6 separate regions of the Homo sapiens genome follow, and all the other regions are linked to region 3. The links come from fine-mapping of genetic effects on gene expression. A gene starts in region 3. Each other region holds a variant in brackets. All regions are shown on one strand. Distances are between the middles of the regions.

Region 1 (5,067 bases), 190 kb after region 3:
AGACCCATGGCCACCTCTGTCCTCTCACTTCACACATCACATCTCTCCTCGTGGGGGCCTGGGTCTCATGTGTCAGTTCTATTGGGCGGACTTCTGTGGAGACCCTGCCAGGCGTCAGCGTGTGGCACAAGAGACAGTCCCTCCCGGGGTAGTTGGTGACTCCGGAGCTGGCACTCAGAAGCCGTTAGCGCCACCGGGCTCCTTGCAGCTCAGGGAGCCCTGCCTGGCTAGGCTGTCCTGGCTGTGTGCTCTGCACTCAGGTGATTGGAGAGTCTCATTCTCACTCAGGTGTGAGATTTCGTAGCACAAGTCTCAGGGGAGCAGGTTGCAGCCTGTTTCTTAAGAACGCAGTGGGTTAGGTGGGCGCAGGCACAGCACATGTGTGGCAGAGGCGGGCCCAGCTGTGGCCTCTCCTCCCTATACCCGTGTAAGGTGAGGAAGCTCTGGATAGTCCTCCCCGCACCCCAGGACCATAGTGAGGGGACTCCTGGGTTGGGCTCCATTAGCCCCTGGCGAGGTCAGGCCTGCCGGCTGCCATCACAAATAATAAAAGCAGGGCAGGAGGAGCTTCCCCACATCCTGGAGGGCAAAGTAGATGGGTGGAGGTGGAGGCCAGGGACAGCTCCCCAGGGCAGGGGCAGTTTAAGGAGGCGAGGGGCAAGCAGGAAGCTGTTGGATCATTCCATACGATCTCCAGATTGTGAATCCTTCCAGGACTCTGACCTCCCCGGAAAAACAGGCAGGACACGCGCCCAGGCCTGTAGGCTGCTGCTGAGTTTGGGCCTGTGAGGTGGGGGGAAGGAAGCTGGCTGCTTTCTCAGATTCTGTTCCACGGCTTCTGCGTTTCTGGGAGTTCCTCAGAATGGGCTTCCACCCAACAGACTTGGAACTCAGATGCCCACTGGGGTTTCGGTAGGGGCAGAAGTGCCCACCACCCTGCCCACAGGTGCTGCACCTCAATCTCACTGTGGCCCCAGGCCCCTCCGGACACGCGGCTATGCTGCCTCTTTCTCATCCGGCAAAGCCCCTGCTTCAGGCCCTCAGACGGGCTGACCACAGTAGCAGCGCCCCATCCTCCCGGACCCAGGATGCACCTGCCGGAGCCCCCGGGTGCCCTGCACCATCTGCACGGGGTCTCCCAGGGCTCACCAGGCAGCACTTCCCTTGCAGGGCTCCCTGCGGACTGCCGTGGCCGCTGGGAGAGCTTCGTGGAGGAGACGCTGACGGAGACGAACCGCAGGAACACTGTGGACCTGGTGAGGAGGCTCGGGGCTGCCCCCTCGGTGCACGCACGGTGCTGGGACGCCGTCAGACGCTCCTGCCTTTGCCCTGAGGCAGAGGCCAAGGGAGGCACAAGGGCCGCACGCCTGCCTGCTCCTCTTGACTATGCGGTGCCCCTGCATAGTGTGTCCTCCGGGCTGATGTCCGTAACAGAGACCCCGTCCTGTGCCACACCCAGGGCTGGGTCTCTGAGGACCTCTGTGCAGAGCCGGTGTTGGCCTCAGGTCCCTTTCCTCCCACTCCAGGAGCTGTAGCTTGTTGGCAGAGGGCTCCTTTTGCCTGAGACCCACAACCTGCCCCCTGCACATGGAGGTCGGGCTGTCACGGGGCCTTGGCCTCACCTAGGCACCTCCTTACACAGCACGGCCTCCTGGGCCCAGAGATCTGATGAGTGATGTGCTGGGTGGGGTCTGGGAGCCCTGGGCTGGGCATGGTCCTGGGCGCTGGGCTGGGTGGGGTCTGGGGCGCTGGGCTGGCTCACACGCCCACCCCATCTGGCCTGTGTTTTAGGTGAGCACTCACCACCTTCACTCCTCAAGTGAGGACGAGGACATTGAGGGTGCTTTCCCTAACGAGCTGTCCCTTCAGCAGGTGAGGGCGTGGCCGGCACCTGCACCCTGCCGGGCCCTTCCCGGCACCTGTGTGCGCTGCGCTTGGTCCTCCAGACGAGTCTGATGGCATCTCACTAGCAAAGGGGAGCGGGGGCTCGTCTCCGAGCACGTATGGGGCGGGGTGGGTCTGAAGGGAGAACCCCAAAGTCACTCCACCTTGATGAGAGCACTGAGGACACGGCAGATGGACTCGAAAGTCAGAGAATATGGGGCGTATCTCAGATGTGACCGCAGCGAGCGCGCAGCCTGAGTTTTGGTAGAATCGTGAGCCCTGAACAGAGTTTACTGCCCACTTGTGCTGGAGGAGAAGCTCCCGAACAACTAGAGAGATTGTGGTTCCCAAAGAGCAGCCTCCAGGCCTGATGCCTCCTCCATGACCGGTGTCTGTCCGTCCCTCCCTCCCTCCCTCCCTCCCAGGCCTTCTCTGACTACCAGATCCAGCAGATGACAGCCAACTTCGTGGATCAGTTTGGCTTCAATGATGAGGAGTTTGCCGACCAGGACGACAACATCAAGTGAGTCTACTTGGAGCGCACTCTGCACGAGGCGCGGCTCTCCCTGCTGCTGAGCTCCCGTGGAGGCAGCTCCCTGAGGTCTTGCCGGGAGTGCCGTCTGATGTCCCCGGGAGACAGCAGGTGTTCCCAGTTGTGTGAGGGTGCTGAGGCCCCCGATGAGCACCGGGGGAGGAGCACTGAGGCCCCAGATGAGCAGTGGGCCTGGAGGAACGCTGAAGCCATCCCCCTTGCTCTTGCAGTGCCCCGTTTGACAGGATCGCAGAGATCAACTTCAACATCGACGCTGACGAGGACAGTGTGAGCAAGCCGGGCTGTGTGGGGTGCCGCCACCCTTTTCCCAGGCAGCTCAGGCCATGCCCATGGCTCGGTCTGTCATGGGCCTGTGCGGTGGGGCTGGGAGAGGCCCCTCTGTGGAGCTCGGAACAGTCGCTTTCCTTGCCCCTCCCCGTCCTCCCCTCCAGCCCGGGGCTCCCACATCCC[G/A]AACTAAGCCCCTCTGGGAGCTCTATGGGGAGAGCGGCTCCTGTCTCCCCCAGACCCTCTGGAAACTCACCTTGGCGTTTTACTCTGCAGCCCAGCGCAGCTCTGTTTGAGGCCTGCTGCAGTGACCGCATCCAGCCCTTTGATGATGATGAGGACGAGGACATCTGGGAGGACAGTGACACTCGCTGTGCTGCCCGGGTGATGGCCAGACCCAGGTGCGGGGCCTGCCCATCCCCACAAAGCCTCTGCCGAGGAGGTTCAGCCCCCAGAACACCTGTCAGACGCCCTGTGGTTCGTTAGCTGGCTTGCAGAGCAGCCACACCTGTCCTGCCAGCTCTGGGGCCCAATGCAGCGGGTGACCCTAAGGAGCCCAGAGCTGAGGCCTGGAGCGTCTCGTGCTCCTCTCTCGAGACGATCTGTGCTCACCCTCAGCCCCGAGCCTGGGGCCGCCACTGACCCTCCATGTTAGGCGTCCGTCCTGGGCCACCAGACATCTGACTCTGAATCTCCCCCAGGTTTGGAGCCCCCCATGCTTCAGAGAGTTGCTCAAAGAATGGCCCAGAGCGTGGAGGCCAGGATGGGAAGGCGAGCTTGGAAGCACACAGAGATGCACCTGGGGCAGGTGCCCCACCGGCCCCCGGGAAGAAGGAAGCGCCCCCTGTGGAGGGTGACTCAGAAGGTGGTGCTGGGCGCCAGGGGCTGGGAGTGTGGGTATCGGGGACAGGACATGGTACCCCGGCCTGGGTGTTGTGGAGGCTTCATTTGGAGCTGAGGCATTTGGGGCTCACTGTGGCCCGGAGCCTGAATCCCCAGCTATTTCCCAGCCGTCCTGAGTAGGGGTCTGTGCTGCGCTGTGCCCAGCGCAAGGTGGCCTCCTGCCCCTGCCTTGCAGTTGTGGTCACTCAGCCACGTTGCCAAGGCTGGTGGGTGGTGTCCACCTAGTCTCCATCGTCCGTCCAGCCCCCACACAGTCAGGCACAGGCCTGACGCCCTCCCCAGCACAGCAGCACAGGCCGGCCGCCACCTTCATGGCCGACATCTATGGCAGGAGCCAGTCCACCTCACAGGCCGCATGGCTGATGAGACCCCTCTCCTTACCCTGCCCTGGGGGCAGCACTGAGGCACTCAGGACTTTGGTGGCGGGGGCAGAGATCTCTGTTAGGAGGGGCTGAGCTCTTCGCTGACAGAGCAAGGGTGACACCCTGGGGAAGCAGGAACATCCCAGATAGGAGGAAGACACCCCATCCTCGAGGCCAGGAAGGGGCCAGTGGTGCTCGGTGAGCTGCCGGCTCTGTGGGTTGCGGTCCTGGGTAGGACAGGGCAGTGGCATCACCTCCACACTGTCAGTGTCAGTCCTGCTGGAGGCCTGGGGGCCCTCAGGCACCTGACTGAGCCCCAGGTCACACGCCCCATGGGTGTCGGCAGCTTGTCAGGACCCTCGAGCTGTCCCCTGTTGCTCCTTGAGGGGCTGACGGGCACTGCCTGGGCCTCCCTCCTGGAGCAGCCCCATCTTCCTGTCAACCTCTGAGGGGCTCCCGGGGCAGGGGCGCTGCCTCCCCTTTGCCTGCAGCACCCCAGGCCTGCCCACGCCTGACCACTGTGTCTCTCCCCCAGCAGGCGCCATGTGGACGGCAGTGTTTGATGAGCCAGCGAACTCAACGCCCACAGCCCCAGGAGTGGTGAGGGACGTGGGTTCCAGTGTGTGGGCAGCTGGCACCTCAGCTCCAGAGGAGAAAGGCTGGGCCAAGTTCACTGACTTCCAACCTTTCTGCTGGTAACAAATGCGCTGGCAGGAGGGGGCTGTGCCAGGAAGTGCCTGTCAGGGCCAGGAGGCACCTGTCCCCCAGGACTGATCCTGTCCTCGTCCTTGTATGCAGCTCCGAGTCAGGGCCCAGGTGCAGCTCTCCGGTGGACACAGAATGCAGCCATGCTGAGGGCAGCCGGAGCCAAGGCCCTGAGAAAGCCTGTGAGTAGGAGCAGTGCAGGCGGCACCCAGCCTTGCCCAGTTTAAGGCCTGAGGCCAGCTGGCCCCCCTCCTTGGGGGCAGTGGGAGGAGGTGGCCGGGGCCTCGCATGCTGCTACGTCTCTGGTGACATTGGGGTTTGATACAGCAATGGGACTGGAGCAGCCACGTGTAGATGGGGAGGCCCCCAGAGGGGAGGCAGCAAGGCCATTGGGCT
Region 2 (5,067 bases), 44 kb before region 3:
AGGCGTGGGACCCCCTGTGAGGCTGAGGCCCGAGCAGGTACTGACCCCTTGTCCTTCCCCACAGCCGAGCCCAGGAAGTGCGTCCCCTCCGTGGTCGTGGGCGTCGTGGGCATGGGCCACGTGCCTGGCATCGAGAAGAACTGGAGCACCGACCTCAACATCCAGGAGATCATGACGTGAGTGCCCGCCCCTCCCTGCAAGCCCCACCCCACAAGCCCCCAGGTGGAGGCTGAGCGCCCTGGAGGCCAACCACATGCGGCAGTGACCCAGGCATGGGGGCTGGGGTATGGGGAGCCCACCCCCAGCCAGGCCCAGCGCCCCCTCCCTCCCACAGCGTGCCCCCGCCGTCCGTCTCCGGCAGAGTGTCTCGGTTGGCCGTGAAGGCCGCCTTCTTCGGCCTGCTGGGCTACAGCCTGTACTGGATGGGCCGCCGCACCGCGAGCCTGGTCCTGTCGCTGCCCGCCGCGCAGTACTGCCTGCAGAGGGTGACCGAGGCCCGGCACAAGTAGGAGACTGCTCCCCGCCCGCTCGGGCCCCTGAGGAGCCAGTGCCCCCGCGGCACTTCTGGGTGCCAGGTGCATCCTAGCCCGCCCGAGGCCCCTGCCACCCCCCATGGGGGTCTGGGCCCGGCCTCGCCTGCCCTCCTGGGCCAGTCACCCCTCCCCCAGCCCACCCAAATAAAGGATTATTTAACTGTCTGAGCTCAGGCCTCCCGGCAGCCCCTCCCCTCCCACACTGCAGGGGCCGTTCCCCAGCTTCTGGACAAGACACCCAGCTCCGAGGGGGCAGGGGCTTATAGGAGGGGCCGAGGCGTGCGCTGCCCTCTCAGCCCTGGTGGCAGGCGGGGGACAATGGCCACTGTCCCTACCTCACTGTGCCTTCCTGTGCTCCGGCCACAGGAGCGTCGGCCCAGGGGCGGCTCCTGGGGGCTCCAGGGCAGGCGAGACTGGGAAAGGCCCAGCCCTGGAGCTCCAGCCGACCCCACCGTGCCCCTGGCATCCTGGCCCTGGCCGCCACCTCCCTGGCACCGTCTGCCTGCAGGGATTCTGTGTTTTTGGCTTTTTTAATGTCTTAAAATCTTTTACTCAGGTAATTTTAATTTCAGAGAGAAAAACTGAAGTAAATGTCAAAAAACACCAGCCTTAAATCCAAAGGGAGAGAATTCGTGTTCTTGGGTCTGTCCCGAGTGGGCTCGCGTGCAGCCAAACATCAGCTCTGGGTCCAGGCGTGGCCTCAGCTGGGAGCCTGTGTCCTGAGCCCCCGGAGCGAAGGGGTGCCTGGGGCATCTTGGCCCTCTCTGGGCAGACAATGTGTGCACCTATGTGGAAGGCCAAGGACATGGGCTGTGGCCAGGCCTGTCCCGCTCAGGCCCCCTGCCCGGCGGCCGTCTGTGTGCGGGGCCTCCCTCCTGGCTGTCCAGGACACAGCCCGTGCAGCCCCAGCCTGGACCCAGGCCATCTCTGGTTGTGTCTGTGCCGACTCGGTGTTGAATCAAATCAGGTGTGCGTCAGGAGCCGGCTGTGTCCTTCCTGCCACACTCGGGGATTCATTCCTTAGAAACTGAAATAAATTCTAATTTTGGAAACTCCTGTTTTGTGACGTGTGAACATGGGGTTCAGGTAATGAAGGATCCCTGCCTCTTCCCCCGTGCTCCAGTGCAGCGGGTACTCGTGGCCCTGCCGGGGCCCTGGGGGAAGGAACCTGCCTGGTTTCCAGCAGAAGAGACAGAGTCGGGTCCCTCCATGCTGACCTGTGGGACCCTTCTCACCCACCAGGTGGGACGCAGGTGGCCTGCTGACACTCAAGACCCTCCATACCCAGTCCCACCAGATTCCAGAGTGTGGACCAGACTGAGCCAGACTGGGGCCCCAGGGGGTCGAGGAGACAGATCAGGAGGGCCCAGGGCCTGGGGAATGGGGAGGGGTAACACCTGCCAAGGAGGATGCTGGGAACGGGCGCCCAGAGCGGCCGGGGGGAGGGGGCTGCTGAAGAGGGAACGGTTGCTGTGGGCTGCAGAGGAGGGTTGGGCACGGGGACCTCACCACATTATCCCTCATCCAGTTACCTGCCCAACGCACGCGGAGGGTCCTGAGGGCTTCACCCGCAGCCCCAAAGGGGCAGAGCTGGGGTCACGCAGAGTCTCGGAAGCCCACGCTGTGGCCCCAGGAGAAGCTTCTGGATGTAGCTCCTGTATGTGAAGGGTGGGCTCGCGCCGCTGCCGGAATAAAGGGAAACCACAGGCAGGAGGGAGGCGCGTCCAGGATCCGCGGCCACCGGCCTCTCAGACAGTCCTCTGGGGCCGGGGCCGGAGGAGATGGAAAGCGGGGGCACCACAGACTCATCTGAACCCCCGCGTTCATTCGGACACACAGACCCCAAATTCCTCCCCCAGGGGTCGGGTCCCTCAAGCCAGCCGAAGACCCCGGTGCCCGCCCAGCCCTCCGGGAGGGTCTGCGCCTGCGGCCTCGCGGGGCCTCTCCGAGCCCGGGCGCTGTTCCATGGGCGGGGCACAGATCCAAGGCCCCTTCCCTCCTAGACGGCAGGCGAGGGGCCCGAGAGGCCGGAGGCCAGGGGACAAGGTCCCCGAGAGGCGGCGCGAGGCTCCGGCGGCCCAGAACCGCGGCGGGGTCCGGGTGGGGTCCCGGCCGCCCGTGGGGCGCGGGGCTAAGCCCCGGCCCGACCCGAACGGACGCGGGCCTCGGTCCCCGCTGCCGGCGCCGGTGCAGCCGAGGAAATCCGGGGCTGCCCGAGCGGGGTCGTCGCTGGCGGTCTCGGAGGCGTTCCCATCTGTCACCCCGTTCGCATCAGCGCGCGCCCCGTGACGCCGACAGCCACCCCGGACGCCTCCGACCCTCCGGCCGGGAGATGCGGATAGACGGACGAGGCAGCCAATTAGAGCCCGGCCAGACACCGCGACCCC[T/TC]CCCCCCACCCGCCCCACTCTCGCCCACTGGCGATTGGGTTGCGGGACGCGCGGGGCGGGGCTTCCGGGCGGGGCAGGCTGGCTTCCGGCGGGAGCGGGGCCGCGGATGGCCGTATACAGGGCAGCGCTCGGGGCTTCGCTCGCGGCTGCCCGACTCTTGCCCCTCGGTCGCTGTTCCCCGTCGCCGGCGCCCCGCTCTACGTTGTCGGGCGCCGCCATGGAGCCCGCGCCTCGCTGGCTGGCGGGGCTGCGCTTCGACAACCGCGCCCTGCGCGCCCTGCCCGTGGAGGCGCCGCCGCCCGGTCCCGAGGGCGCCCCGTCCGCGCCGCGGCCCGTGCCCGGGGCCTGCTTCACCCGCGTGCAGCCCACCCCGCTGCGGCAGCCGCGCCTCGTGGCGCTGTCAGAGCCCGCGCTGGCGTTGCTGGGCCTGGGCGCGCCGCCCGCGCGCGAGGCCGAGGCCGAGGCCGCGCTGTTCTTCAGCGGCAACGCGCTCCTGCCGGGCGCCGAGCCCGCCGCGCACTGCTACTGCGGCCACCAATTCGGCCAGTTCGCCGGGCAGCTGGGCGACGGCGCCGCCATGTACCTGGGCGAGGTGTGCACGGCGACCGGCGAGCGCTGGGAGCTGCAGCTCAAGGGCGCCGGGCCCACGCCCTTCTCCAGGTGGGCCGGGGCGGGCGAGGGGCGCGGGTGGGTCCTCCCCGCCGGGGCGCCCCTTCCCTCCGCCCGGCGCGGTGTTGGGGGCGTCCGGCGGCTACTGCCAAGTGGGGCCTCCCCTGCACCCGCGGGAGCGCGGTGCTGGCAGCCGCCCGCGCCCTGTGCTTATCAACCCGCCGAGGACCTTGGAGTCAGCTCCACCAGGGACGCCGCTCATGTTTACCGACGTTCGCTGGGGCTCCAAACCCAGGGGCGGGAGCCGGGATGAGAGGTTAGGCTAACCCTAACCCTAACCCCGCAGGTCCCCAGCCTTCCTCCGATCGCTCGTGGGGCGGGCCGCTTCGTCCAGCAGCCTCGCTCTGCGACTGACTTCACGGAGGCCTGGCCCTGACTTCCCTGCGGGCAGCCCTTTTTAACCCCGAAGTGAGGTGGGCATCGTTTAGATTTCTGTGGGGGGGCACACAGGTGGTCTAATAAGGCAGGATCTGGGTCCAGATGCCGCCAGGCCCACCGGGGAGCCGTGCACGCGCCACCTGCCTCCTGTGTATAGACAGCGCTTGGGTCTGTTCTGCTCTTTTCTACTAAACAATGTACTTACTCCATATTCTTTACTGCTTTTGTGAATGACTAGGAAAGTGTACATTTTATGTTCAGAGAAATGCTAAACCCGCATCTCATCCGGCCCCTCCCTGTGCTCTCATCACCTCCCCCTCCAGCACCTGAAATGCCCCTCGGTCCCTCAGCATCCCTTCCCCGGGGCTCCATCTCCCAAGCAAGCTCCTCAGACTGAGGGTCTTCCTCACTCCCCCGTCTCCAAATCCGTTCTGTTCTGTGTCTGAGGGCAACCTGGCTCTGGCTCTCCCTCCCCACCCCCAGCGACCTGCTTAGAGTTGACAGCACCGGCCGCCCACTGGAGCGTTTCTGACCCTTGGAACGTGGTGGAAATGCTGCTCAGCCTGGGGCCTGCTTGTCCTGTGAGCATTTTTTTTTTTTAATTTTTGTTTTTCTTTTTGGCGATCATCTTAAACTTTATGTTTTCATTTTTGGTGATATTTTAAAGTTAAAAAGACAATTTTTTTTATGAGAGTAATCTGTCGCTGGAAGACACTTTTTATGTTTGAAGACTTGAGTATTAACTCACTGCTTTCAGACCTGAGAGCTGCTAGAATATATTTTCTCCTAAAAATTAAGGAGTCCTTTGACCTTTACTCAGGCCCTGCCTGACATCCCCACACGTGTCCTGGGGTCCCTGGCCTCACCAGTTCTCCAAGATTGAGGCTAACGTCTGAAGTGGCTGTGAGAAGGAAGAGACTTGAACAGTGAAAACTGAAAAACATGAAGAAAATAAAGAAAACATAAATAAATGGAAACATCCCTTGTTCGTGGGTTGGATAACTTAATATTAGAAAGACAACGGTACTCTTTGAAGAGATTCAGTATAGTCCTTATCAAAATACCAATGACAGTTTTTGCAAAAATAGAAAAACCCATTC
Region 3 (5,067 bases):
TGACGCACACCTGTAGTCCCAGATACTTAGGAGGCTGAGGCAGGAGAATCGCTTGAACCCAGGAGATGGAGGTTGCAGTGAGCCGAGACCACACCACTGCACTCCAGCCTGGGCGACAGAGCAAGACTTGTCTCAAAAACAAAAAACAAAACTGCTGTACACCAAGACATTTGCTGTAGCATTATGTATGTTTCTAAATCATCTAGCTATCGCATAAGAATAGAACGACTAGTAACAATGTATCCTTTTGGCAACACTGATAAAGCAATAAAATACAAAACTCAAATGAGGAGCTACAGCGTACCATGGTAAAGCCTCAGGCGACAGACAGCAAAAACATATCCAATTGCACGAATTACAGAACATGAACACTTTTGCCACACGTGGCTACTGAGCACTTGAAATGTGGCTTGTGGGGCTGAGGAACTGAGTATTTTATTTTGTTTTAATTAACTTCAATTTAAACGGCAGCTCTAGAAGGCAGAGGTGGCTTAACGATATACCCCATTAGGTAAAGATGAAAAGCAGCATGTTGCTTTGGCCGGCAGGTGGGCAGCACTGTCGCTGCAGAGGAGGGTGGCCGCCAGTAAGCCCACTCCAGCAGCCCCACCTCAGGACAATGCAGCCACCAGACTATCCCCCCTTTTACCATGATAAAAGGAAGGTCACCGGGCCGGGCACAGTGGCTCATGCCTGTAATCCCAGCACTTTGGGAGGCCGAGACGGGTGGATCATTTGAGGTCAGGAGTTGGAGACCAGCCTGGCCAACATGGTGAAACCCCGCCTCTACTAAAAATACAAAAATTAGTTGGGCATGGTGGCTCACGCCTGTAATCCCAGCACTTTGGGAGGCCGAGGCAGGCGGATCAAGAGGTCAGGAGTTCAAGACCAGCCTAGCCAGCATGGTGAAACCCCATCTCTACTAAAAATACAAAACTTAGCTGGGCGTGGTGGCATGCACCTAAATCCCAGCTACAGCTACTCGGGAGGCTGAGGTAGGAGAATCACTTGACCCCGGGAGGCGGCGGTTACAGTGAGCCGAGATCGCGCCACGGCACTCCAGCCTGGGCAACAGAGCAAGACTCCATCTCAAAAAAAAAAAAAAATTAAGCCGGGCGTGGTGGCAGGTGCCTGTAATTTCAGCTACTCGGGAGGCTGAGGTACGAGAATTGCTTGAGCCCAGAAAGTGGAGGTTAAGGTGAGCCAAGATCGCGCCACTGCACTCCAGCCTGGGTGACAGAGTGAGACACTGTCTCAAAAAAAAAAAAAAAAAGAAGAAGAAGAAGAAGAAGAAAGGTCACAGGAAGCATTTTCCAAACCCCGAGAGAGATGAAAGAGGAAAAACTAAACATTCTACCTTAATAGCCAGCCCAGAGAGGTCCGCATTGTCTGGCACGGGGGGCAGGCCCAGTCGGACGTCCATGTCATAAGTGCGGCTGTGCACAAGGGCCCCGAAGAGCGAGACCCGGGTGTCTCTCTCGAACCTGTCACCACAAGGGTCACCAAATGAGAAGAGCCCGACGGTGGGCAGGCCAGTGCCTGGAGCAGCCTCCATAACCTGAAGTGTTTCCTGGATCATGCTGTGACACAAACACTCTTCTCTGGAGATCAGAGACTGAACGTCCATCTCAAACACACTCAGGTCGTCGCAATCATAGCCGCTGTACGGAACGTTTCTCCCCACATGCTTGTTGTTAAGGAAGTAGTCTCGTTTTCTCGGCAGAACTTGAGGGGGACCACTCCCTGCCAGCTGAACCAGGAGGTCCAAAACAGACCCCACCTCCAAAAGCGGACAGCAAGGGGCTGCTTCCAGCTCCTCCACAAGCTCCTCCAAACGGTCGGCCTTGGGGCCCAGGCCACCCACTCTCAAGTCAAAGGACAACATGAGGATCTTGTTTCTCGCTGGTAGTTTTGACATGTCAGGCTGCAGCTGTTGAGTCTCATCTTGAAAAAGATTTGTGAAAAGAGCATTGTAGGCCACCTTCTTGAGGCTCCGCTTTGCCCTCTTCCGGTTCACACTGCGCTGGCCCAGGTGAGTCTTGGCAGCCGGCAGGAGGGCCTCACACAGGTCGTCGAACAGCTGCGTGATGCTGGCCATGCCCCTTCTCAGCTCCGGGCCCCCGGCGTGTGGGAAAACACCTCACCCGGGCTTCACTCACGCTCCGGAAGACAGGGAGTGAGAGAGGGTCCGAAGAGGCTGAATGACAGGCGGCCTCTCCAATGCCGAAGCTCAGAACTGGTATTTTTTAAAGGAGGTCTTGCGGTTGCTCTACTCAGAGTAAACACGCCCTGCCCTCCCCAGTCCAAGCACGCTGCCCGGCGCCCGGCAGCCCACCAGAAGCCAGCTCGGCGTTTCTTCTAATTCAGTAGCCCTCAACCTTTAGGGAGTCACAGAACCGTGGCAAAACCGAAGAACGAAACGCGCGCCCGCGCAGTACAGCGGACGAACTCGGCTTTGCACCCGTTCTTCGGGACCCACGAGAGGAGACGGCCAGGAGAGGGTGCCACTCCGAGGGTCGTGGGCAGCGGAGAGTCTGGGGGCTCAGCCGGGTGGGTCCCGGGTTCTGGCCTGCACGTCCACCCGTTCTCCAGGCCTCACCCGTGGAAAGTGCCCACGGCTGCCGCTCTCGCCGCCTCCGTCGCGTCACAGCCGCGCCAGTGTGAAGAGCACTAGGGCGGGCGCGCCGGAAATACGTCACGGGAACGCCGGCAGCGCGTGAAGTTGGTGAGGCCTGGGCCGCGGCATACTTCCGGCCTGAGTCCGGCACCGCGGGTGAGAGACCGAGGCCGAGCGTGCTCAGTAAAGGAGGCAGAGCCAGCGTTTCGTTTGAGCGATGTTTACTAACGGCGCAAGGGCGGGGAGCGAAGCGCAGCGGGGCGCAGGGGCCGGAACGGGACCGAGCGTGGGTTGCATGGGCCTCGATGGGACGGGCCGGGGCGCGATGGGTGGGGCGGGGGCGAGGTGAGGTGAGGGGTGGAGCGGGGGAAGCACGGGTGGGAGAGGGCGGGGCGCGGGGATTGGGAGTGGGCGGGGTTCCGTGCCCCAGAGTCGAGGGAGCCGTGGGCTTGGGGTCCGGATCGCGGCCGCGGGGCGCTGGCGTGCGGTGTCATTTCTGCGGTGTAAATGCTCCCACCTTGGCCGATTTCAAGCCACCAGGTGAGGATGGCACTACAGGAGGAGCCGAGAAGAGGCGCGCAGTTGGCCTCCGGCGCTGGAGCTGGTTCAGGGCACTCCCCTGCCCTGCCCTCCCCACCGATCTGTGCGGCAGAGCCAGGCCCCAGGGCAGGGCCATGCCTCCGCAGTCAGCCTCACCTGCAACATCTTCCACTGAGGCTCCAGCTGCCCTCTCAGGTACATCAGGGCCTGGACGTCCTCTGGGGAGGCCACAGAGGAAGGGCCTAGGCTAGGAGGTGCCTCTCCATTCAGCACCCGGGCCAGGATCCCTGCTAGCTGGGGTGTGGAGTTCTGGACCAGGGGCGAAGACGGAAGCAGTCACTGGTCCTTTCCCTCGTCCCACCCCGCAGCACCTCCACCCTGCCCAGCTTACCTCCTCCAGGAGGGCCAGGACTCGGCCCCCTGCCAGCCCCCGAAGCATTGCAGCCAGGAGTGCAGCGTGGGGGCCCTGCAGGCCATGGCCAGGCCCCAGCGCCACCAGCACCAGGTCAGGCTGGAAGCCATAGGCCAGGGGCAGCACCAAGCCCAAGATGCAGCTCAGGAAACCACCGGTCATCTGTGGGGACAGCAGAGCCCAGCTCCTCATCTACGGACACCTGCTGGCTCTGGCCTCCCAACCTCCCAATCTCAGGGCCCCTGGAGTAGGAGCAGGGAGACAGGAAGGACCAGAGGCCTGCTATCATGACAATGCCAGCAAACAGCAGCTGTACACATCCATGGGCTCCCCAGCACCTGCCTTGCCGCGTGGCATGGTCACTCACCACTGGCAGTGGCGTGGAGACATGGAACATGGATAGGGCAGCCGCCTCCTTGCCCCTGATGTTCAGCCACAGACTCCTCCTTCCAGGACACAGGTGCATAAGTGTAAGGCCCTGCTCACCCTCCTGAGCCCAAACCGCAGAGGCAGAGGTGGAAGAGCATTCACGGGGCCATGGGCAGGGGTGCTGTGACTGCTGAGCCTCTGTGCTGGAGACCCACCTGGCATTGCCTCCAGCAGCCCTTCTCCCACACCCCAGCTGAGGAAGGCTCCATTCAGTACCACACAGTGCCCCACCCACCCGTCACCCTGGGGCCCAGGCACACGTCCATCACATGCCCGTCCACATGCATGGCTGGACATATGCAAGACCTGAGAGTCCTACCCGTCATGGGCGAGGTCTGGAGGCCGGTCCAGCTGTCCCAGGGCCACGCACAGCAGCCTGGAAGAAGAGCTGGCCTCAGGACAGGTGTTCATGTTGTCCAGAGTCCATTCCCAGAACTCTCTGTGCTTGGCCAGCCAGGATAGGGGTGCCCACAGGTCCTGCCGTCAGAGGCTCAGGATGGCCAAGTGAGGCTTACCTCTGGGCTCCGTGGGACAGGCCTCTCCGAACAGCCACATCCAGGGTGGCTGCTGCAGCAGAGGCTGGAGTGGCTGCTATACCACTGTTCACCTGTGGGATGAATAAACAGTGGAGAATGAGGCACCAACCAACTCCCAAGCCAGGTAAACAGATCCACAGTTCCCTTCATTCGGTGTGTCTCTGCGGCTACTGTCAGCCACACATCTTCTTACACTAAGGTCAATCACTCCATTTCTGTAAATAAGATGCTTACGTCTATAATTTTTTTTTTTTTTTTTAGAGAGGCAGGGTCTCGTTCTGTAGCCAGGCTGGCGTGCAGTGGCGCAATTGTAGCTCACCACAGCCTCAAACTCCTGGGCTTAAGCGATCGTCCTGCCTCAGCCTCCTAAGTAACTACAGGCACACACCACCACGCTTGGCTGACTTTTTTATTTTTTGTGAAGACAGGGTCTCCATATGTTCTCTAGGCTGGTCTTGAACTCCTGGGCTCAAGCGTTTCTCCCACCTTGGCCCCCCAAACTGCCGTTATTACAGGCATGAGCCACTGCACCC
Region 4 (5,067 bases), 25 kb before region 3:
TGATCCTCCAGGTGCGGCGGGTGCTGAAACTACTGGAGACCCCTTACCACTGCGAGGCGGGGGCCGCCACAGACGCCGAGGCCACGGAAGCCGACGGGGCGGACGGCAGGCAGCGCTCCTACAGCAGTAAGCCCCCGCTCTGGGCAGCAGAACTGTGCGTGACATGATCTTCGTAACGGCCTCGGCACGCTCCACACCCCTGGAGTCTCCCGAGGCCCCCATGTGCTGCTGAGTGGCCAAGATGATGCCAGGCTGCCCTATACACTGGGGGATTCTGCCCTGGCCCATGCACACCCGTCTTTCCATGATGGCAGAGACATCCAGTCAGGACCTGACCCGTCTCTGTCTGAGGCCGGCTCAGCAGTGCAGCCTGGTCCCTGGGGGCTGGACCCAGGCTCCTAAATAAACCAGCAACTCCCTCGAGTCTGTCTCTGTGGTCATTGTTCCCCCACCCTGCCCTGTCCTCAGCCCCCACCCAGGAGAGAGAGCTGCAGACAGGGTCCGAGAACACCTTTATTGTGCACGTCCCCCGCAGAGCAGCCTCAGGCGTCCTGGTAGTAGTTGTTGAAGTTGATGCGCAGCAGAAAGTCCTCCAGGTGGGGCTGGTAGCCGCGGTTCACCAGCTTGGTCACCACTGGGGACCAGCGAGCAGCTCAGGCTTTTGCCCACAGTGTGAGCCCCGCCCTGGCCCCCCCGCAGCCCTCCCAGCCAGGGTGGGCCTCACCTTTGAAGAGAAAGTGGGAGTAGTACTTGAAGGTGTTGTAGGACTGCTGCATGAGTGCAAAGTTGGGGTGCTCTGCACCCCGCGGGCCCCCAGGGGGCCCCCAGGCCTGGGAGATGAGCTGGCTGCGGAACTTGAGCACGAGGCTGAAGATGCTGTGGATGACGTTCATGACGGGCGCCGCCTTCTCCGTGAGCAGGCCCCTGGGGGGAAGCAGTGCTGCTGGGTGGGCTGAGCCGTGACCACAGGGACGCAGCCGCTGCCCAGGCCTCACCTGAAGACGGCCTTGTGCAGGTACTCTGCGTGCGCACGCTGGATCTCCTCCAGGTCGCCCACGGTGGCCAACCTGGCCCTGAACTCGCACCAGGTGACGTGCAGGATCTGGTTGGCGATGTAGCCCTGGATGACCTTCACGAAATGCTGCATCTCGTGCTTGAACAGCTGCAGCTGACGGAACTGCACAGAGCCGGCCATGTGGCTCAGCAGGGCTGGCGGAGGGCAGAAGGCAGAGGGCAGAGGTGAGCGCAGCCTCCAGCCAGGGGTGCGGGGCGCCGGGCTCCAGCGGGGCCTCACCTGTGCGCTTGAGGTGGAAGCAGACGTCCTTGAGCGCCCACATCATGAGCTTCAGCTGCAGCAGGAAGGAGAAGACGCCGCTGTACTTGCTCACGCAGCCCTCGGTGATGACAATGTTGAGAGGCCAGTCCACCTGCCAGGAGGCGTGGCTCAGCAGGCATCCCACAGGCAGGCAGGCCCCTGTCCCATCCCCCGCGGCCAGGGCTGCTGCTGACCTTGTACCTGAGCTCCAGGCAGCTCAGCACATCCGGGGCGTTGGGGGCAAACACCTCGGGCAGGTACTTGAGAGCGAGGGAGAGGTTGGAGGCGTGCGGGGTGTCCCCATGCAGGCTGCACTGCAGGGCCTTGCTCAGCACAGAGTTCAGCACCAGCGGGTTGAGCAGCTCTCCGGGCGTTTGCCCAGCTCCAAGCTAGGCAGAAAAGGGACCACCGTCCCCAGGAGTCCCAAGCACATGCCTGGCACTCGCCGGCACCCCATGGGGCTGTGCCAGAGCAGCAGGGGGCTGTGGGCGTGCAGCCAGTCTCTCTTTTCCCACGGCCTCCCCTCTACCACTGGCCCCACCCCGTGTCCGGAGGCCACCTTCTCAAAGAGCAGGTCGCTGAGGGACTGGGCGAACTCGCCGTCCTCCATCAGCAGGAAGTGCCGCAGTGCCTCATAGTGCGCCTCCAGGTGCAGCTCCACGAAGAAGTAGTCGACAGCGGCCTTGTTCACCAAGGAGATGCTGGCAGGAGGGAGCTGGAGTCAGGGCGGGCCAGGACGGGCTGGGTGGGCAGACTGGCGCAGGGGCAGGGGCACTCACTGGGCGGCCAGCGGTGCCGTGATGGAGCGCTTCATGAGCACGGGCAGCGTCAGCAACTCGCTCAGCTGCACAGCAGTCTCATCAGCGGCAGACTGGACCTGGGGGTCCACGGGGAAGGCGAAGGCCCGGGGAAGCACGGGGCGCAAAAGATGAGCAATGGGCGGCTCGGCTGCGGGAGATGGAGCACGCACGTGCTGGGAACCGGCCAGCCCAGGGCTCCGCCCCCATCCACAGGAGATGGAGCACGTGCTGGGAACTGGCTAGCCCAGGGCTCCGCCCCAACCCACAGGAGGTGGAGCACGTGCTGGGAACCAGCCAGCCCAGGGCTCCCTGCCAACAGCAACTGCTGCACTCACACATGGACTCGTAACTGTCCGGGTACCGCTCCAAGTGGTACTGCCCTGCCAGGCCTGCCAGGTAGGCCTGCTCCCCACCCTGAGCCTCCGCCGCCGATGCCTCCGCCTCCTCACCACGGCCTGGGCTGCTCTGGGCAGCTGTGTCTTCCTAACAAAACACCAGCCTCAGAACCACCTCCCCACTGCACGCTGTCCCCACAACCAGCTTGTGCCAAAAAAAGGAAAATCGCATGTGGGACCCACCCGCGTGACAACCTAGAGGGACAGAGCCCTCCCTGCCTGCTGTGGGACCCCCAGGCTGCATCCACCTAACCTGTGAGTTGAGAGGCCAATTTGGAGAGAGGTCCTCAGTGTCCCCGCTCCTCCCAGGGCCTGTGTGGACACAAGTGGACACGAGGGCATCAGGGCCGAGTGCCTGTGGCGGGTACAGAGCCGAGCCGGCCCTGGCTCAAGCAGCCCCTCCCATGTCCCCCACAGCAGCCCAGGTCCTGGCTGAC[A/G]AGGAGGCCTGAGGGGAACTTCACATGCCACCAACCCCACTGCCCGCCTACCTCCCAGGCTCTGTGCGTCCCACAGTCCCACTCCTGACCACCAGCCACCCTACTCTGACCTAGTTCTTCAGAGACACTGTCTCCCGGGGTGTTGGGCCACCATGGTTGGGTGGGAGCCACGTCTGACACGTTCTCCCCCACGCTGATGCTCCCCTCCCCGCAGCCCGAGCTGGGGGAGGACAGAGATGGCCCCACTTCTACAGGCAGCCGTGGCCCACAGTCCAGCACAGTGCTCTGTGCTCCCAGGCTGAGCGCTGACTGGGACGTGTGGCCAGGGGGGCTCTGTTGGGGCCTGGGTGTGTTGGGCTCAGCTTCTGGTGAGAGAGCCCCCAGCACCATGTGGGGCGGAGGGATGGGTACATGGGTGTTCCACCGTGGCCGGGTGGAAACCACATCCGACACAGGCTCCCCCAAGCTGATGCTGGCGTCGGACACGTGTCCATGGGTGTTGCACCGTGACCGGATGGGAGCCACGTCCGATACGTTCTCCCCAACCCTGATGCTGGTGTCAGACACATGTCCGTGGGTGTTCCACCGTGGCCGGGTGGGAGCCATGTCTGACACAGACTCCCCCAAGCTGATGCTGGCATCAGACACGTGTCCATGGGTGTTCCACCGTGGCCGGGCGGGAGCCATGTCTGACACAGACTCCCCCAAGCTGATGCTGGCATCGGACACGTGTCCATGGGTGTTCCACCGTGGCCGGGTGGGAGCCACGTCCGACACGTTCTCCCCAACCCTGATGCTGGCGTTGGACACGTGCCCGTGGGTATTCCACCGTGGCCTGGTGGGAGCCACATCTGACACATTCTCCCCGACCCTGATGCTGGCGTTGGACACATGTCCATGGATGTTCCACCGTGGCCGAGTGGGAGCCACATCTGACACAGACTCCCCTAAGCTGATGCTGGCATTGGATACGTGTCCGTGGGTGTTCCACCGTGGCTGGGTGGGAGCCACATCTGACACATTCTCCCCGACCCTGATGCTGGCGTCAGACACGTGCCCGTGGGTGTTCCACCGTGGCCGGGTGGGAGCTATTTCAGAAGCGTAGTCCCCTGTGGGAAGACCACCCCCTGACACCTGCCCAAAGAGCCGCTCTGTGGGCTGGCTGCTCCCCTCCTCCAGAGCAGCACGCCTGGGTGGGTGTGAGGGGAGCAGAGTCTCCCGCGAGGCGGAGCCACAGGCATCCATCTTCCCACAACTGTCCTCCCACAGCTGTAGCCCTGAGCTGCCCAAGCTGCACTCTGCAGCCTGCAGGGGCCCTGGTGCAGGTGAGGTGGCCACAGCTGGCCTCAGGACAGTACTAAAGTCGTACTCCTGTGGCCTGGAGGGCTGAGTGCTGGCTGCTGCGGGTGCCTCCCCAGGAGCTGAGGGGGGCAGGTCCAAGTTAATGGTCTGCAGCGCCACCTCCAGGAGAGGGACCATGCCAGTCTGCACGGACGGCTCAGCCCCTGGGCCCACAGGTAGGAAGTCTCCAATGCTGAGGCTGTCAGAGAAGGGTCTGGCCCCCTCCGCCTGCTGCAGCCCCCTGCCACCAGCCCCCACTGCTAGAGGCTTAAGGGGCTGTGGGGTCAGCAGGCCTGGCCTGTTCCAGCCATCCCAGGCAGGCGAGTGTTGCTCTGCAGACCCAGAATCACAGCCTTGGCCTCCCTCTGGGTGCTCAGGGCCCGGAGACGTGACCTGAAACACAGGTGACATCAGACCCAGTCTGGTCTCAGGACCCCCCAGCCCTCGAACTGTCCCCCAAGTTCAGCTCTGCAGCCATGACCAACACCAGGTGCCGAGGGCTATGGGAAAACCATAGGGCACCCTGGGTTCCACTCTGCCGCTTACCTGGGGGTGCACGCTCAAGAGGACGTCTGGCGGCTCCTGGGGCTGGTGAGCCTCAGACACTGCTTTCAGCATCTCCTGAAATTCAAGCCAGAGGGGTGACTGGCCAAGCCGGAGTCAAGCACAGCCCTACCCCACACAAAGCCACAGCCCCTACCGCCCATGGCAGCCATGTGCACTGAACCAGACAAGGCTTGTGCTGGGCTCCAGTGGGACGCTGGGCCTGCAAAAAGTAC
Region 5 (5,067 bases), 170 kb before region 3:
GAAAACAGGCCTGGGGCAGAAGTAGCTTCCCATAGGACACACCCACCCGTGCCATGTGGGTTTGCCATTGCCACGGCAACACTGGACGTCACCACCCCTTTCCGTGGCAATGATCCAACCACCTGGACGTTAGCACCCCTTTTCTAGAAATTTCTGCATAATCTGCCCCTTAATTAGCATATACTTAAAAGTGGGTATAAATAGGAGGCAGAGCTGTCTCTGAGCTGCTGCTCGAGGCACCTGCCGGTTGGAGAGCCCTGCTATACTGCCACTGCAAACAAAGCTGCTGTCTGTCACCTCCAGCTCGCCCTTGAATTCTTTCCTGGACAAAGCCAAGAACCCTGCTGGCCTAAGCCCTGGTTGTGGACTCATCTGCCCGGCACCATCAGGGCCGCAACCAGCACCGCCAGACTCAGGGAGGGGCCGCAACCAGCACCGCCAGACTCAGGGAGGGGCCGCAACCAGCACCGCCAGACTCAGGGAGGGGCCGCAACCAGCACCGCCAGACTCAGGGAGGGCTGGGGAAGAAACACACGCCCGAAAACCTGCTCCCGTGAAGGATCTCTGTGAGTCGCAAACACAGAGCTGTGGCCAGCAGGAAAGCCAGGCATAAGGAGTGGGCCAGCAAGGGCTTGGGGGCCGGAAGGGACCTGGGCAGCCAGGCCTTGCGTCCAGAAGGCACAAAACTCCAGATGCACAAATAAAGCTGAATTCCCAGCCAGGCACGGCGGCTCATGCCTGTAATCCTAGCACTTTGGGAGGCCGAGGCAGACGGATCGTGAGGTCAGGAGTTTGAGTACAGCCTGGCCAACATGGTAAACCCCGTCTCTACTAAAAATAACAAAAATTAGCTGGGCGTGGTGGCGGGCACCTGTAATCCCAGCTACTCGGGAGGCTGAGGCGGGAGAATCGCTTCAACTCAGGAGGCAGAGGTTGCAGTGAACCAAGATCACACCACTGCACTCTAGCCTGGGCAACAGCAGGACTCCATCTCAAAAAAAAAGGAAAAAAAAAAAAGAAGCAGAACGGAAATGGAACCTAAGAGAGGACTGAAATGCTAAATAAGGGGAAGTGAAGGCACTGGGAAACACACACAGACACAGTCAAGCACACAGGAGGCTGTCCCATTGTTGGAGTAAAAAGGCAAAATGTCACTAAATGTCACAAGCTAGACAACAAGGCCAAGGCGGAGGGAAGGGGGACAGACCCCGCATGGTCTGTTTATCAAGGAGCGTATTAGAATATGAAGGGCAACCCCCAAAAGAATACTGAAAAATTTCCCATCCAAAATTAGAGGGAAAAGGAAGGACGGAGCCTCTGCCAATTCAAAAGAAGGCAGGGAAGGAGGGAAAAAGGCAAAATCAGGGAAAATGGAAAACTCAAAAGATGGTAAAAATAAGTAGAAATTTATCAGTAATAACTCTCAGAGGAAATGGGCTACATTCAAAAAGCTAGGGAGAGAGAATGACAAGATAAAGAACAAAATACAGTTACGTGCTGCTTATAACAATTATACCAAAGTACAAGGCAAGAAAAGTTGAAAGTAAGAAGGAGAAAGAGGCCAGGTGCGGTGGCTCACACCTGTAATCCCAGCACTTTGGAAGGCCTGGGTGGGTGGATCACTTGAGGTCAGGAGTTCGAGACCAGCCTGGCCAACATGCCGAAACCCTGCCTCTACTAAAAATAAAATAATTAGCCGGGCGTGGTGGCATGTGCCTGTAGTCCCAGCTCCTCAGGAGGCTGAGGCAGGAGAATTACTTGAACCTGGGAGGCAGAGGTGGCGGTGAGCTGAGATAGCACCACTGCACCCCAGCCTGGCTGATGGAGTGAGACTCCGTCTCAAAAAAAAAAAAAAAATTCCTCGGGGACAACAGTGTCAACTCACCTACGGCAGTAACAAACTCCCCCTAAAAATTACAGGACACCAGCAGCACCTTTCGCGATAAGGAAGGTTATTACCAATGATACCAATAACAGACTAGAGTCTCCACAGATGAGGCGCACGCCGCCATGCGGTGTAGACAGCCAACTCTTCGCCAACTCGGAATCGAAACGTGACGTTTAATCCAGCCTCAGTCACCCCCGACAGAGTATGAGAGAAAAGAGAAAGAAGGGAAGTTTTCTTACTGAGTAAGATTTCAGGACCCGAGCAGGAAATGGCACTTCGTCCAGAATGTTGGCGCTGTCAGACATGGAGCCCTACGAAGAAACAGAACTGTCACCCCGGGTGCACGGGCACAGGGACTCAGCACTGCCGCTGGCATCCGGCCGCCGTGGGCAGTGGGTCAGGTCAGCCTGCCGTGTAGATGCGAGACCGCCTTGGAGGCGCCCGTGGATCTTTGGGCTTGAGGAAATGTTCACACACATTGTCCTTGCATATGAAAATTAGCAGATGTGGTGTCTCCTGGTGATCCCCTGGGGACGAGCACTGGACTGAGTCAGGCTTAGGGGGAGGGGAGGGTACAGCATCTGTCTTCACCTCCCTGTAGCCAGCGGCCGCCAACCCCTCACCCAGCTCCAGAGCCCCTCCTGGCCGGGGTTTCTGAGACCCAGGAGAGAGGGGTCTCATGGGAATGCCCTGGAGCAGCCCAGATCGGCCCTCCGAGGGTGACGCTGAGACCCACCTCGCTCACCCTGGGGTGATGCCTCTGCACCCCCTGCCCTGCGGGGTCAGAAGCTGCACCCACCTTCTTTTTCTTGCAGTCCTCCTCGCTGGACCGTGCAGCGATGATCACCGTGGCCGCCATGAGCAGCTCCAGCAGGAGCAGCAGGATGAGGTTGAAGTTGATCTGCCAAGGGGCACACACGCTTCAGCACCGGGCCCGCCTTTCTCACGCCACCGCGCTTCAGCGTCCACCGGACCACCTCACGGGCAGGCTGCGCAGGACTCTCAGCCA[C/T]GGTCCCCACTTTTCCCATCCAGGGCCAGCTGTGAGGCACTGTGGGCTGCACACTCTCCTGCCTCACATGGGCCTTTGGGGTCTTTTAGTTTTTAAAACCATTCTTAGTGCAAAGGCTGTACAAACACAGGCCAGGGCTGGATTTGGCCTTGGGCTCTGGTCTACCGACCCCATTCTGAACGCTCCTTGTTCCCACAAAAGCCTTCACGGAATGTTTAGAGTAGCTTCATGCATGATTGTCAAGCACTGAGAACATAAGGTTTTTTGGAGGGTAATGAAACGACTGCAGGCCCTGACCGTATTGGCAGTGACATGAATTTATATGTGTGTTAATATTCATAGAAGCATACATTTTAAAAAGTCAGTGTAGCTGTCTGACAATTTTTTTTTTTTTTTTGAGACGGAGGTTCGCTCTTGTTGCCCAGGCTGGAGAGCAAATGGCGCAATCTCGGCTCACCGCAACCTCTGCCTCCTGGGTTCAAATGATTGTCCTGCCTCAGCCTCCCGAGTAAGCTGGGGTTACAGGCACCTACCAGCACGCCCGGCTAATTTTGTATTTTTAGTAGAGAGGGGTTTCTCCATGTTGGTCAGGCTGGTCTCGAACTCCTGACCTCAGGTGTTCCGCCCACCTCGGCCTCCCAAAGTGCTGAGATTACAGGCGTGAGCCACCGCGCCCGGCCTGACAATTTTTAAAATACATTTAAAAAAGAAAGAGTGCAGAACCACATTCAACTAAAAACAGAGCCTCGAAATATATGATGTCATAACAGAGCCACAGGAAGATGTAGATATATCAGTAGAGGTGGGGAAGGACTTGAAACACTTTTCTTAGAAACTGACAGATCAGGCAGAGGGAGGCGGCTCACGCCTGTGATCCCAGCACTTTGGGGGACCGAGGCGGTTGGATCACCTGAGGTCAGGAGTTCCAGACCAGCCTGACCAACATGGTGAAACCCCTTGTCTACTAAAAATACAAAAATCAGCTGGGTACGGTGGCGCACGCCTGTAATCCCAGCTACTCGGGAGGCTGAGACAGGAGAATTGCTTGAACCCGAGAGGCGGAGGTTGCCGTGAGCCGAGATGGAGCCACTGCACTCCAGTCTGGGCGACAGAGCGAGACTGTCTCAAAAAAAAAAAAAAATGACAGATCAAAAAGACAAAAGCATAAGGAGAACTCTAAAATTCAGAAAAGTGTGACATTAACCTTGTCTTTTATTTTCTGTATTTCTGGTGCTTTGACCTCTGGCTCCTTCCTGATCCTGAAGAGACAGCTCCTCCCAGGGCCAGCCGACAGCTACAGTGAGTAACTTGCCTCTGAGCAGTTCAGATACAAGCCACTGACCCAGGGACCACACCCCATCTGCTCTCCGTCTTAATAAAGAAGCGTCACAGGCCGGGCGCGGTGGCTCATACCTGTAATCCCAGCACTATGGGAGGCCGAGGTGGATGGATCACCTGAGGTCAGGAGTACAAGGCCAGCCTGGCCAACATGGTGAAACCTTGTCTGTACTAAAAATACAAAAATTAGCCGAGTGTGGTGGCACACGCCTGTAATCCCAGCTACTCCAGAGGCTGAGGCAGGAGAATTGCTTGAACCCGGGAGGTAGAGGTTGCAGTGAGCCGAGATGGCGCCACTACACTCCAGCCTGGGCGACAGAGCGAGATTCCTTCTCAAAAACAAAACAAAACAAAACAAAAAGGCAGTGTGGGTGTTCCCACTGGGTCCTCCTGTGTCTGCTCATTTTTCCTGCCCAACGAGAGTGGCCAGGACATACTCAAGCCTCCTCCAGCTTTCCCCAATCATCAAGTGCATTCCACATGTCACACAAAGCAGGAGGCCCTCCTTGCAGTATCTCGGATGAGGTCCTGGTTTCCTTTGGGATTTTTGTCTTTTTTTTTTTTTTTTTTTTTTTGAGACGGAGTCTTGCTCTGTCTTCCAGGCTGGAGTGCAGTGGCGCCATCTCGGCTCCCACAACCTCTGCCCCCTACAATTTCACATTTTTGTTTAGAGGTGCATTGAACAACTGTCTTACACAGATTGGATGAAACATAGTATTATGTCACTGTTAATTTTTAAGGACTGTTGGAAAAGACATTGTTTACCAATAAATCTGTCCCGCAGAATCACGAGACTTCAATAAAGACAATTATTTTCTTTGGATGCATAAAT
Region 6 (5,067 bases), 300 kb before region 3:
CCCTGACCTGCTCCACACCCCCGCAGGCCCGCAGGGGAGGGCAGAACTAGAAGGGACCAGCGCATAGGGACCTGGGGGTGCTGGCACTGAGGTCTCTGGGCCTGGGATGCTGACCTTCCCGGAGCCCTGAGCTGGGCCAGGACGAGGTCTTCCCATCAGACTTGCCGCTGGCTAGGTGACCGGCCTGTCTCACAGATGAAAATATATTCTGAGGCCCAAAGGGGGCCCAGACCCTGACTTTGTGGCCCAGAGCCAGGTTCTCCCCATAACCAGCAGGCTTCTTTACCCACAGGCCACTGTCCACCCAAGCCCCGCAGGCAGGAACCCTTGGTATTGGGTGGCCCTGAGCTTGGGATTTGCCGCTGGCTGTGTGGCCCTTCGGAGCCAGTCCGGCACACCCGCAGGCACACACACATGCGCACTCGCATACAGCCACAGATTACACAGGCACCAGCTTCCCGGGAATCCATTTGTCATGCAAATGCCCCTCCTGGGGCCCCTTGCCTCCCCAGAGCTGTGTCTGTCCAGGGTGGGGCCCAGGTCCGTGGAGTCCTGCAGTTTCCTGGCCACAGCTATTGGCAACTGAGGGATGTCTCTCCAAAGAGGACCCAGATCCACGTCCAGGCTTGCCTGGGACCCGATCCCTGCCCAGTGCGGGGGCTGCAGCCTCAAGGCCCAGTCTGGCCACCGCCAAGTCCACTGGGAGCCAAGTGTGGGTTCATTCCCTCGTGGCTTCTGGTGCACCAGTGGGGTGGGGGGCCAGGCCTCTTTCCCTCCTTGGCTGCCTCAAAGCAAGAGGGAGGGACTCTCAGCCCTGTGCCCACCGACAGGCCCAGTCTCCATTCCTCCTAAAGCCCCTCTATGGCCCCCCAGCCCTTGGAGCTGAGCTTGTGAGAGCCGTCCCCTACAGGGTGGGCTCGGGAGGCAGAGCTGTGAGCCTGCTCCCCGCCCACCCAGAGCCCAGCTGGGGCAGACCCAGGCATCCAGGCCGGCAGGGTGAGCCTGTGCCCAGGTTGGGCAGCCCCCTATGCTGGGGGTGGCCAGGCTCTGGGCCTAAGTGCTGCCGGGAGACAGGGTGGCTGGGCTCTGGGATGCTGGCTGAGGGACACAGGCTCCCTCCTGTCCTCCGGGGCCAGTGGACCCTGGGGCAGCCCCCATGCCTGCTGTCCTGTCCCCACACAGCCTGTGAAGCAGGCTCCAGGCACACATGGGGGCCACGGGGGCAGGTGGTCCAGACGGCTCTCAAGGCAAAGCTGGGAACACTGTCCCATCCCTCTGGAACCCGCCCTGGTGAGGGGTGCAGGGGCCCTCAGTGGCCACCTTATAGGACCGGGCACCGGGCACTTCATGAGGCTGTCTGCTCGGCCACAGCAGCCCTGCTGATGGAAGCCAGCCCTGGGCCCACTGCAGCTGAGCCACCCAGGGGCCTGGCCACCCAGAGCTTCCCTGATAGGCTGCGCTGTGCCCGGAGCCCCCCAGTGACTGTCTCCTGCCCAGCCAGGTCCCAGACCCAGGGCAGCCTGCAGGACCCCAGGCCTCCACTCCCGCCACCTGAGTGTCTGTTCTGCATCTGCCCCGCCCCTGCCTACTGGCAGCCGCAGCCCTGGGCGGGCCTCAGCCGTCGGCTTTCTCAGGGTGTCTGGGTTGGGGCGGGCAGAGCTGCCCTCTGGGGGTTCCCGTGGTCCCCTAGAGGGTGGGCTCAGCGGCATCAGCTGCCAGAGAGGCTGACCGGCCCTCATGGCTCTTGACGGTATGTGCAAGAGTTTGCCTGGCGTGGTGGGGGGTGTTGCTGGCCAGGAACTTTCTTGCCATCGTCTTTCTTGGTGTCTGTCTCCCCTGGGTTCTCTGGACCCTGTCAAGCCTGTATGCTGAGGGTATGCTGTTACCAGGTGGCAAGGTGTCTCAGGCACTCCTTCAGGGTGAGCAGTCAGCTCCTGCTGCTGCCAGGGCAGAGGTGCAGAGAGCGGGGAGCAGCTGGTGGTGCCGGAACCCACAGCAAACCCCCCGCCCTCCAGCCCTGCCCCTGACACACCCCCGATGGCCTGGCGGAGCATCCCACCAGCCCAGCAAGAGGGCTCCTCTCCTCACCTGCCCAGGTCCCCTGGGGGAGGGGCC[G/A]TCCCTGTCCCCGCTGTCCCCCAGCCCTGGCCAGGGCTGTCCTCAGGGTGGGGAAGGCAGGCCCCCGCCACCCTCTCAGGGCCTCAGGCCTGGGGCAGGCCAGAGGGCTGGGTGAGGAGCCCTAGCAGGGCCCACCTGCAACTCCCACTGGCGCCCCAGAGAGACTCCGCACCTAGGAAGGGCCTCGGCAGGGACCAGAGCCAAGCCCTGCCCGCTTGGCCTCTGCCCCAACCCAGATGTACTGAGAAAGCCCAGGGCTGAGGCCCGTCTAGGGCTGCACCCGCCTGTGGACAAGGGCGGGGCAGATGCAGGACAGGCACTCAGGTGGTGGGAGTGGAGGCCTGGAGTCCTGCAGGCTGTCCTGGGCCTGGGGCGTGGCTGGGCAGGAGAGGAGTCGCCAGCAGGGCCGGGCAGAGTAAGCCGCTCTCCCTGACGGGGCTCCTTGGGTGGACTTGGTGGGGTTGCCAAGGGGGTGGCCAGGGCACGAGTGCCACACCCAGGCTGCAGCAGGGACAGCTCCACATGGAGGCCCATGGGCACTGGAACCCCTGGGCGCGTGCCCTGGCCTCGCAGCCACCCTCCCGGCTGGCCCCCACACCACGGCCGCGTCCCAGGACACGGTGTGCAGCTGGGAACAGGGCGTGTATTTGCTTAGGGCGCCCAGGAGCTGCGGCCTGTAGGACAAGGGCCCATTGTGTGCCCAGCTGCCCCACCCCCGGGCCTCTCCACGCCCCTCGAACCCCGTCCACACGGCCCCCCACACATGACACCCTCCGCCAACCCTGCTACCCAGCCCTCTTGGCCTGTGCCCCCACCCTGCTCCTCCACCATCGCCCCTGCCTGCGTCCCCGCAGCCAGTCCTCCATGTTTCCTCACTTCCCACCCTGACACCCCTCCACCCACCAGGACCCAGGTTCTCCGAGCAGAGGATCAGATTTCCGGCATTGCTGCCCGGGCTCCACGCATCCGGGCCTCGCTCACGGGTCTCTCTATACACGGGTCTCCACTATACAGAAGGCCGATCAGTGGCCCCTGCCCCTGGAGCAGAGCCCCTCAACCGGCAGGGACACAGGCTTCCCACTGGAGGGGCCCTGGGGAGAAGTCCTTGGCTGGAGAGGGGGGTGGGCCGTCAGAAACTCCCCAGGCGGGTCCAGCATGCTGGGGGGCAGCACAGGCCCAGGGCTGGGACCCTCTGCAGTGTGGGTCTCGCAGTGTCCCCCCGCTGGCCAGAGGTGAGGCCTCAGGTGTGGCGGGCACAGGCCATGAGAGCCGCACCTGCCCGAGGGCCCTGGCTGTTGGACTTTCCACTCTAGAGGGGCTCAGGGGAGGCTCTGACACCAAGGGAGCTGGACCTCCTGCACCGTCCTGGGGACCCAGGCCCTCAGGTCCGCCAGACAAGCCCGGCACAGCCACTGCAGGGCCTCATGTCAGGCACACCCCTCCCGCCCTGCAGTAGCACAGGGGGATTGGGGTCACCATCAACCACGGGGAAGCACAGAGGGGTGGGGGGATGTGGGGGACAGGGGGGTATAGCGGGGGGAGGCGGGCATGGGGCCTGGGCCAGGCTGTGTTATGGGGGAGCCGGTGCAGGGGGTGGGGCCTGGGCCAGGCTGTGTTGTTGGGGGTAGTAGGGGTGGGGCCTGGGCCGGGCTGTGTTTGGGGCTGTGGTGCCTGGGCAGGGCTGTGTTATAGGGGGGTGGGGGGGTGGGGGGCCTGAGTGGGGCTGTGTTTGTTGGCGCAGGGGGGTGTGGGGCCTGGGCTGGGCTGTGTTGTCAAGGGTACACTGGCTGATGAGGGAATTCTCTACCCAGCTAAGCAAGTAACTAGAAGGACCGGGCCCAGCCGCCTGCTGGAGCTGCCGGGGGTCCAGGGGCAGCCGCCCTGCCAGGCCTACTCTACGGCAACACGGAGCGTTTGCAGCAGCTTCTCCCAGGCCCTGTGGGCCGAGGGCTCAGGAGTCCAGGGCAGCGCAGGACGGGCACAGCTGGGGGCCCCTCATAGCCAGAAGGGCCCCTGGTGAGGCCAGGCAGAGGGCGGCTGCCTTTCCACAGTCCATTCGCCCACTCAGCCACATTTGGGGGTCTCTGCCCACCGGGCTCCACCCTCCTCCCACTCCCCACCCCAGCTATGACATCTTCTCGTGCCAGCCTCACAGGGGCCTTAGACTGGACGGCAGCGTTTGGCTCGCAAATGAGGAACCGAGGCTGGAGGTTACCGGGACAGGGGCGGGGAGGCTGGTGGGGGCTGAGGAAGGGTGTTGGGAGGCTAAGGTGGTGCAGAGGAAGGGGGTGGAAAGGCTAGTGGGGGACTGAGGATGGGGGCGTGGAGTCTGGGAGGCTGAGGCCAGGGGCGGAGATCTGGAGGGCTGAGGATGGGGGAAGGGAGCTGGGAGGCTGGCTGACTGAGGACGGGGGCGGGGAGGCTGGGGGGCTGAGGACAGCTTCCCGGCAGGCCTGGCTGCGTGGGCCCCTCCTCAGGCCCAGGGCCGGCCAGGTAAAACCAGCCTGACCGGGTGCTGCGTGTGAGCCTGCGTCTGTCTGCCTACTTGTCATGTGTGCTGTGGACCGCGGCCAGGAGGAGCTGCGTGCGTCACAGCAGTGCCCTGTGGCAGGAGGTTGGGCGGGGGCCACCTGCGCGAGGCCCACCTGCCCAGCCAGGGCGGGGAGCAGGTACCAGCAGCCAAGATTTCAGGGCTGGGCCCCAGGGGAGGGCAGGGCCAAGGCCCAGGCAGAGCCCCTCCACCTGTCTTCACAGGCCAGGATGCAGAGACGGGTATCTGGGCATCGAGTGGAGACCGAGAGAGGCAGGGAGGTCACCAGGCCCCATCAGGAGGCCAAATTTGGCCTGGGGCCTGGCCCTGAGTGGGCTAAGACTCAACTCCATACCTCCCACCCCTGGCTGTGCCCACCCACCTCAGCCCAAGGGTAGCTGACCAGTGCCCTCCAGAGCCCT

Alleles and levels. Alleles are on the strand shown, and positions count from the first base shown. SD is a standard deviation of normalised expression in the study named. Not every link is listed here.
With allele C in place of T in region 5, the expression in gastroesophageal junction of the gene that starts at base 2,662 in region 3 is lower (large effect, 0.76 SD a copy in GTEx).

The links.
Region 1: its variant is fine-mapped to the expression of TUBGCP6 in whole blood (INTERVAL, PIP above 0.99).
Region 2: its variant is fine-mapped to the expression of TUBGCP6 in whole blood (INTERVAL, PIP 0.99).
Region 4: its variant is fine-mapped to the expression of TUBGCP6 in whole blood (TOPMed, PIP above 0.99).
Region 5: its variant is fine-mapped to the expression of TUBGCP6 in gastroesophageal junction (GTEx, PIP above 0.99).
Region 6: its variant is fine-mapped to the expression of TUBGCP6 in anterior cingulate cortex (GTEx, PIP 0.96).

Annotation. Positions count from the first base shown.
Region 1 is chr22:50,435,197-50,440,263 of GRCh38, forward strand. It overlaps PPP6R2 (protein phosphatase 6 regulatory subunit 2), which reads left to right. Exons shown (of 24, transcript NM_001242898.2): 14 at 1,171-1,256; 15 at 1,792-1,872; 16 at 2,310-2,407; 17 at 2,647-2,704; 18 at 2,978-3,102; 19 at 3,403-3,566; 20 at 4,505-4,661; 21 at 4,765-4,853. Among named protein-coding and RNA genes, the nearest start is that of MIR12114, 30 kb to the left of the region's middle. The variant G/A (reference allele first, on the strand shown) is at 2,888.
Region 2 is chr22:50,198,011-50,203,077 of GRCh38, forward strand. It overlaps TRABD (TraB domain containing), which reads left to right. Exons shown (of 10, transcript NM_001320485.2): 9 at 65-176; 10 at 335-1,585. The coding sequence ends at 509. SELENOO (selenoprotein O) reads left to right here and starts at 3,001. Exons shown (of 9, transcript NM_031454.2): 1 at 3,001-3,580. The coding sequence starts at 3,027. TRABD-AS1 (TRABD antisense RNA 1) reads right to left here and starts at 2,773. Exons shown (of 2, transcript NR_186698.1): 1 at 2,066-2,773; 2 at 1,078-1,318. RefSeq lists silencers at 2,321-3,260, 3,391-3,470 and an enhancer at 3,831-4,070. The variant T/TC (reference allele first, on the strand shown) is at 2,921.
Region 3 is chr22:50,242,362-50,247,428 of GRCh38, forward strand. TUBGCP6 (tubulin gamma complex component 6) reads right to left here and starts at 2,662. Exons shown (of 25, transcript NM_020461.4): 1 at 1,358-2,662. The coding sequence starts at 2,098. It overlaps HDAC10 (histone deacetylase 10), which reads right to left. Exons shown (of 20, transcript NM_032019.6): 15 at 4,514-4,605; 16 at 4,318-4,374; 17 at 3,937-4,015; 18 at 3,549-3,731; 19 at 3,314-3,466; 20 at 2,822-3,169. The coding sequence ends at 3,146. RefSeq lists enhancers at 1,251-2,181, 1,755-2,034, 2,445-2,494 and a silencer at 2,965-3,034.
Region 4 is chr22:50,217,194-50,222,260 of GRCh38, forward strand. SELENOO (selenoprotein O) reads left to right here. Exons shown (of 9, transcript NM_031454.2): 9 at 12-423. The coding sequence ends at 176. It overlaps TUBGCP6 (tubulin gamma complex component 6), which reads right to left. Exons shown (of 25, transcript NM_020461.4): 15 at 4,835-4,909; 16 at 3,058-4,681; 17 at 2,764-2,822; 18 at 2,451-2,598; 19 at 2,095-2,263; 20 at 1,875-2,016; 21 at 1,510-1,704; 22 at 1,295-1,427; 23 at 996-1,209; 24 at 725-924; 25 at 501-634. The coding sequence ends at 543. Among named protein-coding and RNA genes, the nearest start is that of SELENOO-AS1, 9.5 kb to the left of the region's middle. RefSeq lists an enhancer at 2,402-3,044. The variant A/G (reference allele first, on the strand shown) is at 2,948.
Region 5 is chr22:50,074,714-50,079,780 of GRCh38, forward strand. It overlaps MLC1 (modulator of VRAC current 1), which reads right to left. Exons shown (of 12, transcript NM_015166.4): 6 at 2,688-2,789; 7 at 2,128-2,199. Among named protein-coding and RNA genes, the nearest start is that of MLC1, 8.2 kb to the right of the region's middle. The variant C/T (reference allele first, on the strand shown) is at 2,898.
Region 6 is chr22:49,946,752-49,951,818 of GRCh38, forward strand. No RefSeq gene overlaps it. Among named protein-coding and RNA genes, the nearest start is that of PIM3, 11 kb to the right of the region's middle. RefSeq lists enhancers at 70-657, 3,590-4,177, 4,178-4,763. The variant G/A (reference allele first, on the strand shown) is at 2,116.